Regions from separate parts of the Homo sapiens genome. Here region 1 is linked to region 2. The links come from fine-mapping of genetic effects on gene expression. A gene starts in region 2. The other region holds a variant in brackets. All regions are shown on one strand. Distances are from middle to middle.

Region 1 (5,353 bases), 60 kb after region 2:
ATTTTCAACCCTAATACATTCCATAATTTCACCCAACATATTCCAGAATTGTATTCCTCATTTCAGCAGCCTTATTTTAAAATATTTTATAATTATAAACTTTTTTTTCCAAGTAGAAGGTATGTTGATCAATATTTCCCCAAATATATTACTGTACTGGTAAGACATATTAAAAAATGGTTCAGTGGTCAAATACATTTTTCAAATGTTGTATACTTGTCCCTTTCTTGGAGATTTGTGAAGCACACATGCATTTTAAGGCTCTGAGAAGTCCTGTAGTAAAGAAATCTGTTTAACTTGATGTTTTATAATTTATTTACATAACTACAGAATCCTTTAACATCTTATGGAAATGGGATTGGATTTTAGAAGATAGTAATGATGGTGGGAAGTTGTTCTGGAAGGTTTTAGGAAACACTGTAGTATTATAAGGATTTCTTCTGAACTTGTGTTGGTCTCTGGTCATCGTTGTGGAGAACAGAATCCACAGAGTAGCTAGATTAAGCACAAAAGAATGCATTGAGGTATATAGATAGATCACAGAATTGTCGGACAGGCTGAAGAAACAGGCTGCAGGTGGAGCTTCTTGATAGTCTGCAGAACTGGTCTGCCAAGAGAGCTGTTGCCTATGCCACCATCGAGAAGCTTCTCCCACAACTGCCTCTGCCAGATTGGGAAGCCACTGGGTCCACAGTTGTGTGTCTCTATCCTAGCAGGAAGTGGGGCTGGGCAGTTTGTTTTCAGTCCTATTTTAGGAAGGAGGGACTTTACACTAAGGTGAACTATCAAATGTGGAGAGAATGTCTAAAAGACGGCAGCTACAATTAGCAGGCATCCAAGAAGACAGCTGTGTGTTGTGAACACCTTGGGATATAGGTCAGAAAACTGGGGTGTAGCCCTGGCCTTGCCTCTTAACTGCTGCATGACCTTGGGCAAGTCCACTTTCAAACTTGCGATCTCATCTCTAAACAGGATATAACTCACTGACTTGGAGTGAAGATAAAATGAAAGTAATAGGTGTGAATATACCAGGGAAAACTATAAAGTATTAAATGAAATCAGTAAAAAGTATTTTTCACAACCCAGGTTTGTCTCTAGACCAGGGGTTGGCAAACTTTTTCTGTAAAGCACTAGCTAGTAAATATTTTTGGCTTGTTAGATGATACTATCCCTTTAGTACCTATTCAACTCTGCAAGAGCAGCCATAGACAATATGTAAATGGATGAGCATGGCTGTGTTCCAATAAAACTTTATTTATGGACACTGAGATTTGAATTTTGTATAATTTTCACATGTCACGGAATATTCTTTTTATTTTTTTTCCAACCATTTAAAAAAAGGGAAAAACATTCTTAGCTTGTAGACTATACAAAAACAGGTGGCTGGCTGGATTTGACCTATCAACCGTAGTTTGTTGGTCCACGTTCTAGATCATTATACTTAAAATATTTTAAAATGTATTTAAATTTAAATTTAAAATATTTTAAATTGTTTTGCCTTAATGTAGTGGCAAATAAATTTGGGGCTTTGATGATATTGTCTAAATAGTTTTATTGCTATTCACTGGACCTGGTAGTAGCTTCCTCTTTGATAGTAGAATTAAATATGCTTAGTGGCCGTGTATAGCACCTTGGGCTTTATTTAGGTGAAAGCATCCCGAGAAGGATGAGTTTGCTACCCAGCCATCGGGTTCTTAGAACCTCCACATTTTCTCCCATCTTCATGTGTGCCTTTGGTTTTGGAAAAGGGATGGGGCAGTCAGATACTTCTTTTATGGGAAAAGTTGCATTTGGAGACATTCCCATACCCATGCCCACAAACTCTCCTCCGTAAACCTGCCTCATTCCCTTCTTTGGCATGTTCCGTATTTAGCTTTACAGCTTTGCTGCCTTGTGGACAAGAATTTTCCCCCCAAAATCTTGTTACCATTATAATATCTTCATCCCTATTAGAAAACCAGAATCAGAGTGTCTTCCTTGCACCCAAGTCCCATAGAATTTCTTTCAGCCAATGAAAGTCAAAGATAAGTTTGACATCAGTCACTGGAGATGAAGATGTGGGGTGAAGCTGCTGCAGTGGTGTGCTTTGGAGCAGCCTGGTCTACACTCCCTTGGTCCTCGAGCACTTCTGCGTGCCTTTCATGTATTAATAGATGGACCTTTCTCAATTCTCCTCTTTTCCCTCTAGGTGCAGGTGGAGTGTAGAGTGTGATGTAGGTACACTGGCATCTAGAAATGGAGAGCATAGAGGTGGGGGTGGCACTGAAGGAGGGCAGTGTGGGATCAAGGGGGGAAGGAGTGGTCTGAGATTAAGGAGGGGAGGTGGTGTGTTTGCCTTTCTAGGCGCACCTGCTACTTGGTGTGAGACAGGTGAGGCTGTGAGCTGTCTTTGGAGGAGGAGAGTACTTCTTAGTATATGAATGTTTGTATGAGCTTTAACTCAGGTTTACTGATTGAAAGAAACTATATTTAATTTTGCTTTGTATGTATCCCTTTTATTTGGGCTTTACTAAATATAGCTGGATGGGAGGGACGGAGGGGGAAACAGTGTGTAGAGCAGAAGTTAAAACACGCCAGAGCTTTGGCAGCTTTGGGACAGAAAAATAAAACTTTAAACTTGCTTTCTATTTTGAGGCCATCACAAGATGTTTTGTGCTTACATTCATTCCTAAGTCATAAACGGGTAGGAGGGGCTGGGAATTAAGTAAATTATCTCTTGAAAAATACTAATTTGAAATTGAGATAAAATTAGCAAAGGGAAGAAGGGGGAAGAAAGTAAAACACTGGACCCAGCCTGTTTGCAAGCAAAATAATAAACACCTCGTGGGGGTAGAAGAGGCGTGCCAGTGTCCTTCCAGATTTTGGCCTCTGCTCCTACACAGAGCCCCATTGTCTCAGAGCTGGGGGCAAGGCTGAGTGCTGTGAGAACTGACTTGAC[A/G]AATAAAGCCTGTCAGGGGATTTTGACACAGGTCAACCCCTTCTTGAAGCTGTGATCTCAGAGGCAACACGATTTCTTACTCACAGGCAGTAGCTGTCATACTATGAGCTGTTTTATCGTAATATAATTATCACATACAAGATGTGGTAATTGCCTATTTTTAGGAATCTCCCCACTGGGAATCATGGTGAAGATGATCTCTAGAAAAGCTCTCTGCGGTCCTGTGAAACAACCTCCCTTCTCAAGACAAGACTCCCCTTCCTGATAACCTGTTGCTGCTCTGCAGATTGGTCTCTTCACCTCCATCAAGGGCTTCTTGTCTGTTTCACTGAATATTAGGAATGCTTCTCCCTAGGCTTCAGCCTTGGGCTTTCCCCTCAGGTTCTGCTTGCCCCTTGGGACCTATTTGTGGATCTGCAGCAAAAACATAAGCAGAAGAAGTAGAGAATGTGTGTGAGGAAGCCACTTTGTGCTTCGGACATCTCATAACCCAGCCTCCTAAAGCATAGCCCTGATGAGGTCACATTCCTGCTTAAAAAATCTTTCATGACTGCAGACAGAAAAGACTGAAAGGAAATGTGCCAAAATATTAGCAATTTTTTTTTTCTGAGTGATGAGCTTTCTGGTGATAATTTTTATTTACTTTATGGATTTTACTCCTTTCCAATTACTTATATAATAGACATATAATAGTATTTTTTAAGAAAAGTGTTATTTTTATAATAAGGAAAAGTACCATTTAAAAACCTTTAGTGGCTCCCATTTGCCAATTAAAAATCCTCTCTATGACATTCAAGGTTTTGGCAATACTGCTACAATCCTTCTGACCTCACCCTCTTCTCTCTCTGCCCTCACTCCAAGAAACAGCAGCAGAACGGAGTTACCCACTGTCACCAAATACATTTGGTGCTTTGCCTTTGCTCATGCCCCTTCTCCACCCGTCAACTTTCCATCCTTCAAACAGATTTCTCCTTCTTTAGAGACTGTTTCCCATAACATACATCCTGTAAAAGACTTAAAAAAAACACGCAAAAACAAAGAACATTCTTAATCCCACTTCCTGGAGATAACCACTGTTAGCATTTTGATATATGTCTTTGTTCTGCAGCTGAGAGTAGTCTAGTATACCTTGGCTGTCTGTTACAGATTTTATATTCTATATGGTGGTGTTATTTATTTCTGTCTTATCTCCATTCTGGATTTTAAGTTCCTTGACAGCTACAAGAATGGCTTTACATTTTTGTAGCCTCCACAGGCCTTGAGCACAGTGACATTCACATAATATGCATTCCAAAATCATCTGCTGAATCAAACAAGGGAGATAAGACAAGCTTGTAACTTAAGCACAAACCATAGTAACAAACATAAACATGCTGGTTACATTATGAATATAATGCTGAGTATATCCATAAATGCTTAAGTCGCAGGAGAAATACAAATGCTTTAACCTTGGAGTGTCAGGAACAATTACATGACCAGGGACCTACTAAGGTAGGGTAATTTTGGTACAGTACATGGAGGAGATTCAGCCTTGAAGAGAGAAAAAGCTTGTTTTAAAATGGAAAAAACAAAAACAGAAACCCCACAGATAGGACTTGGTGTAGAAAGAGGAGGTGTTTGTACAGACCATTGATTCTCAACCCAGGTTTATGTTGGAATCACTGGGAAGTTTTTTTAAAAAAAATACCAGTGCCTGGATCCAATCCCAGACCAGTTAAATTAGAATCTCTGGGTGGGCTTAGCTGCTTTATTTTTTGTTGTTAAAAACAAAACAAAACAAAAAAACATCTATACAGGTGATTCTAATGAATCCCTGTTTTGGGATCCCCTGTATCCAGGCTTGAGAATCACATTCTAGGCAGATAAACCTTCTTAACAAATAAAAAGTAAGTATTTTGCTCTTCTCATATTGTTGAAAAAACCAGGAGATTGGTTCATCTTGAGGAAGGGAGGTTTTGGTGGGGGTGAGAATAGCTGCTGCAGATTGTTCTGTGTTAAATGTACTTTAAAGCACTTGGATAAAATTCATCCATTTGCTATTATTAAGAAACTCATCTGTGCCTCTTCAATTGCCCAGACTTTTCTCCCCTCTTGAAGGCTGCTTCTTCCTAGAGCAGTAACTGAAGTAGACTGCAGCCAGTATAAGCTCTATTATTGCATTCACCTCTATTATTATATCTAAGCTTCTTCAAGGGATTTGACCTGTATTCAAATACTATCAAAACACACTGTCTCTCAAACATGGTATTTCCCAAATTTGTGTCTCTTTTTCTTTTTCTTTTCTTTTTTTTTTTTTTTGAGACCGAGCTTCCCTCTGTCACCCAGGCTGGAGTGCAGTGGCATGATCTTGTCTCACTGCAACCTCCACCTCCTAGGTTCAAGCGATTCTCCTGCCTCAGCCTCCTGAGTAGTTGG
Region 2 (5,372 bases):
TTGTGATTCTCTGATACAATTTAGTAAAGAAGCATCCACACCTAGTTTATCTATTACTTTGGGGATTAGTAACCAAGTTCATTCTCAACTCCTGGAGCAGTAAAATCCGATTCTTTTTCTAGAGAGAGAAAAAAATATGTGAATACTTGAGACAAAAGCCAGAATTCAAATAACTGCAAATATCTAGGTGAAAATGGATTCATTACTTTCTCCTCTGGATACCTAATTAGTTAAGAAGATCTCCTTCTGTAGAATAAAGTATTTTAAAAGTTCATGAATTCCTGGGGGAAAGAAGAGAAACAGGCATTAAGTGTCTGACCACCCATGTCTCAACACGCTAGGCAGTTATCCTTCTTGTAGCCCTCACAACAGCCCTGCGAGGACTGGTTATTTTATCTCCTTATAGATGAAGAAACTTAGGCTCGAGAATGCTGGAACATCTCAGGGCACAAAGATGGGGGCAGAGAGAAGGTCTGAGTCCGGGGCAGATAGGCCTTCCACTCCAACAGTGTTTACCAGACCAGAATCACCTGGGAGTACTTGCGGAAAATACAAAATCCAGCAAGCCCCATTCTCTCCACGCCGCTCATCAACAGGAAAGCTTGGGAAAGACAATACTACTTCACGACCCAGTCAGGAGACCCGAACTTGTTCCATTCCTACATTCGTGACTTCTCCACCCAAGGACACTCCCCGCACCCGCGCCCCAACGCCTTCACAAAACCCAACATATCCGCGATCAAACCTTCAACTCTCCCAGTGGCCCCCAGAGGTCCAGAGCTTGGAATCTTCTTCTGCCTCCTCACCTCTGAATCCCGCCATTCTTCTCCCTCCTGTAGAATTTCATTTCCTGGCTGGGACCAGGCTCTAACCATCAGGCTTCCAGCCGGGCCCCGGAACTTGCAGCCCGCTCTAGCCTGTCTGGCTCCTGCCCGAGCCCCTCGGCTCCAGCCTGCTCTCATCCCAACCCTGCCTCTTCCGTCGGTCACGTTGTTTCCTCCGCTTGGAAGGACCTCTTTCCTCTCCGGGCCCTTCCCAGTGCTCGGGGAACTCCTACACAGCCTGCGCTCCTCCGCTTCCAGCCACCCTCGCCTCCCACCACCCTGGCTTTGGAGCTGAACCGGCCGCGCAGCCGGGCGGCGACCATCCGTCCCCCGGCCGCTGACCCCAGCGCTCCGGCCTCGCCGCAGTCCCTGGCCCCTCGGCGTTCGTTTCCCCACCCGCCACCTGGCTTTCGCCGCCGCCGCCCGGGAAGCCCTCGGCACTTCCCAGAATAGAGAGCAGCTGCCAACGTCAGGCTGCCGCCTGCCGCGGGGTTCCGGACACGCGGGGTCTGGGCGGAGAGGACGTGACTCCGCGCTGGCCTTCCGCCTTCCCTCCCCGGTCGGGAAACTGAGGCCCGGGACCGGGAACCACTTCCCCGCGAGCACGGTCCGCGAGGGCCCGGCCAACCCCGGTCCTAGGCGTCCCGACTCCCGCGCGCGATCCTTCGACCACACGCGCCGCTCGGTCACCTCAGAGAGCGTGGCGGGGAGCGGGTCTCAGAGCGAGCGCACGGCCCGGGAACGCGCAGGGCGCCAGCCCCGGCCAAGTCGCTGCGAAAGTTGTTGTCTCCCAGCCTGCCCTCGCCTCTCACCTCCGGGACACACCTTCCCGCTTGCCCTGGCAGCAGCGCACTCACATCCGGTCCACCTTGCGCACACCCCTCTCCGCGCTCACTCGCAGCCCCTCTCCCTCCCACGCCCGCGGCTCCCCGTCGCCCCCTCGCGCGCTCCCACCCGCGCCCGGGGCGCGCCTTCCCCGCCCCGCCGCTCGCCCGGCCTCGGCGCCGCGCCCGCCCGGGGTTCCGGCGCCCGGAGCCCCAGCCCGGGGCCGCGACCCGCTTCCGCCCGCCTGGCGCGGGGCCGGAGCCCGAGCAGCCACTGCCGAGCGCGGTGGGCGCGAGGCGAGGGGCGCAGCGGCGCGGGGCGGGGAGGGGGCGCTCGCTCGCTCCCTCTCGGCTGCGCACACGCCCGTACAAACTCTCACACAGACACACGCGGGGTGCGCTGCCGCCGCCCGCCGCTGCTCCTCCTCCCGCCACCGCCTTGAGAGGGAGAGAGAGGGAGGCAGAGAGAGCGCTTTGTCCGCGCGCCGCCGCCCGGCCCGGGACTCTGCCCCGAGGAGGCAGCCGCGCCGAGTCCCCGCCTCCGCCTCTGCCCCCGGGCGGGCCGGGCCGGCCGCGGTGGGGGGAGCCAGGCTGAGGGTGGGGGTGGGTGGCGGGCGGGCGGAGGGCGGGGAGGGGGGGCGGAGGAGGAGGAGAGACGAGGGCAGCGGAGGAGGCGAGGAGCGCCGGGTACCGGGCCGGGGGAGCCGCGGGCTCTCGGGGAAGAGACGGATGATGAACAAGCTTTACATCGGGAACCTGAGCCCCGCCGTCACCGCCGACGACCTCCGGCAGCTCTTTGGGGACAGGAAGCTGCCCCTGGCGGGACAGGTCCTGCTGAAGTCCGGCTACGCCTTCGTGGACTACCCCGACCAGAACTGGGCCATCCGCGCCATCGAGACCCTCTCGGGTGAGCACTCAGCGCGGCCCCCTCCCCCCGCCTCGCCCCGCTCAGGCCGGGACGGCGCCGGGAGGGAGGCCGAGTCCGGCGGGCGGCGCCCGGCGGCGGCTCCCGCGCCCGCACGCTCACTTCCACGCACCAGACCCTCAACTCTCGCCGCCGGCCCGCTCCTGGGACGGCCCGCTCCCCTCCCCCCACAGCTCTGGACTCTGCCCTCGCCCTCGGGGCCGCAGCCTTGGGGCGCCCCCCGTGCCGCTCCGAAGGCTCCCGAGGCTCGCCGGCTCCTTAGGGGCACCCCTCGTTCGCCTGGCGCCCCGGGCTGCTCTGAGCTTCCCCGCCCCCCACCCTTTGAGCGTCCCCTGTCTCACTTCTCCCCTGACCTTCCTGTCACCCCCTTTGTCAGGGTCCCCCCTTCCCCAAATCCAGCGTCTCTTCCTCCTCCCCCGGCCGGACCTTCTCTCTTCCAGTGCCTCGTGCCCAGAACCTCTCGCCCTCTGGCGTCTCCTGAGCCGCACTCTCCTTTCGAGCCCCCTCCCCACCTCGCCCCACGGCCCCCCACTTTTGGCACCCCCTCGGCGCCACCCTGGTGACCCCCTTCGAGATCTCGGGGCTCCCCCAGCCCCAGCCCTCGCACGACGGCACATCCCCTCGGTCCTTTCCCGAACCTCAGTCCCCTCTCGCTTGCTCTCTCAAGCGCTCCTATTTTTCTCTGAATTTTTTGTCCGATTTTATTGAGAAGAACTCGGGGCTGGGGGCTTTCCGCCGCCCGTCCCCCCGCCTCCCGCTCGGCCAGAAGCACCTTTTTACGAGGTGCCCTGTCTCAACTCGGTGGGGGCCAGGGTTGAGAACCGGGAAAGAGGCGACCGGGGGGCCCGCGAGCGCGCTGGAGCCCAGACAGGAGACGGAGAGCGACACACACACACACTCGCGCGCGCGCACTCCCCAACTCTCCCCAGCACACGCTCCGCTCCCAGCCGCGCGGGCCCCCGGGCCCCGGCCGGCGCCCCCCGAACCCCGGCCCGGCGGGAGCCCCTTCCCCACCGGCGTGTGGAGTGGGGGCGGGGCGGCGGCGAGGCCAAGGTGACACCCAGGAGCGGGCAGGGACAGGGCTGTCGCTGCGGCGGACTCCGGGGGGCTTCGGCTCGTTTTCTCGGGGCCACCGGGAGGAGAGGGCAGGGAGGGGAGCCCGGTGGAGCCTTCGGGCCCCGGATTAGCGGAATGGAGAGGTGGGGGCCGGGAGAGCAGCGGGGCCGCGCCAGCCCTGCAGCTTGAGTTTCAAATGAGCTCATCCTTTCAAATTGGCGCCGCTCTTTATTAAATTTGTTTTTCCGGTAATGCCACCCACGGCTATACCTGGGGTCCGACCCGGGCTCGCACCCTCCTCGCCTTGTCCCGAGACACGGGGCGCCCACCTTTCTTTCTACTGGGAACCAAGTTCGCCCAGCTCGATCCGGGTAGGAGACCCCTTGGGGGCGCCCGAAGGCGGAGCCCGAGCGTGGAGTTCCGTGCGTGCCCCCCCTAGACCCCCGCGGGCTTGATCTAAGCAAGGTTCTGAGTGCTTTAATTTCTGTTTTAAAGGTAAAGTGGAATTGCATGGGAAAATCATGGAAGTTGATTACTCAGTCTCTAAAAAGCTAAGGTAAATATACTTTGCTTAGTTTTTTTTTTGCGATTGGCCTTACGTATAAGTAAAAAACGTACACACAGCTTTAAAAAACGTGCTCTTGGTAGTTTTTAAAGGGGCTTTTGTTTGTTTTGTTAGTGGAGATACATAGTTTAGAAAGCTACTTTTTTTTTTTTTACTTTCATTATATAAGGTGTTTACTGTTCTTGGAAAATATCTGGTGCCTAATTGGGGGTCGGGGTGGCGAACACCAGCTATGTTCAGTTCGCTGGGACCCTGTAACTTGTTTATCAAAAATTGCCTCCCACCCCCACCTCCCGCCCCTACCCCCAGCAGAATAGCAGCAAATGCTTGTCAAGACTTCCTGTGAGATGTGAAGAGTAAATATTTACTATGTCAGCTAAATTGCTTAACTAAACTTAGCGATTAATTACTTTTCTCTTTTAGATAGTTTAATGTTGAATAGTAAAATAATTCAGTAAGGGGTCAATATTTTGCATAGCTTTCTAAAGAAGTGGGTTGTTTGGATTGGATGGCAGTTAAAAGCCGGACTTTTTCAGTCACTGAGACTACTGAGTATAGCTTCTGAGCATTTTGTTGTTGTTGCTTGTAAGAAATGTTTGCGGCTAAAATAAATACCCTTGTGAAATCTATAGTTATATTTAAGTGCACTGTTGTTAATGACGGAGTAACAAGTTTTGTGGAGGTTGGATTTCTCCACAGTGATTTGCTAACATGAGAAGAGAAGAGAAAACATCTTTGTTTAAAGTTTATTGTGGACTTTAAATTTGGGCCCTTTATTACTCATTCTAAATTTTTTTCTTCTGCTGTGTGTCGAAACTTAGTTTATATCCCATTCACATACATTTCTTCACCATTAGTCATTAAGTAGCTGGACTGGAGCTGTTCAATGAAGTTTTTGATGACCACCTTTACAGTTTATCAGTCAATAGTTTAACCACCTGATTTTTGTCAGGATTGAGTAGATTTTAAAACAAACTACCCTAATTTTATAAATACTTAGATGTGTTGCTGAAGGGATTTTTAAAAATTGTGTGCCACATTTCCAGATATGTTTTATTTTAAGTAAGCAACAGAATAACTTTTGTTTGCAAATAATCTCTGTGGCATATGAGAAAATTACTTAAATCCTGTTTTTTTTTTAATTTAAAAAAGGTGAGTTATGATTTGCAGTTTCATGT

What was found. PIP is the estimated chance that this variant, and not a neighbour inherited with it, causes the effect. A credible set is the group of variants that fine-mapping cannot tell apart.
Region 1: its variant is the best candidate, but not a certain one, in a credible set for the expression of IGF2BP2 in tibial nerve (GTEx, PIP 0.68).

The regions. Positions count from the first base shown.
Region 1 is chr3:185,762,416-185,767,768 of GRCh38, reverse strand. All of the region lies in intron 2 of IGF2BP2 (insulin like growth factor 2 mRNA binding protein 2), which reads left to right. Among named protein-coding and RNA genes, the nearest start is that of MIR548AQ, 2.8 kb to the left of the region's middle. The variant A/G (reference allele first, on the strand shown) is at 2,939.
Region 2 is chr3:185,821,966-185,827,337 of GRCh38, reverse strand. IGF2BP2 (insulin like growth factor 2 mRNA binding protein 2) reads left to right here and starts at 2,296. Exons shown (of 16, transcript NM_006548.6): 1 at 2,296-2,555; 2 at 4,125-4,185. The coding sequence starts at 2,378. RefSeq lists silencers at 1,479-1,568, 1,979-2,248, 2,260-2,490 and an enhancer at 3,430-4,293.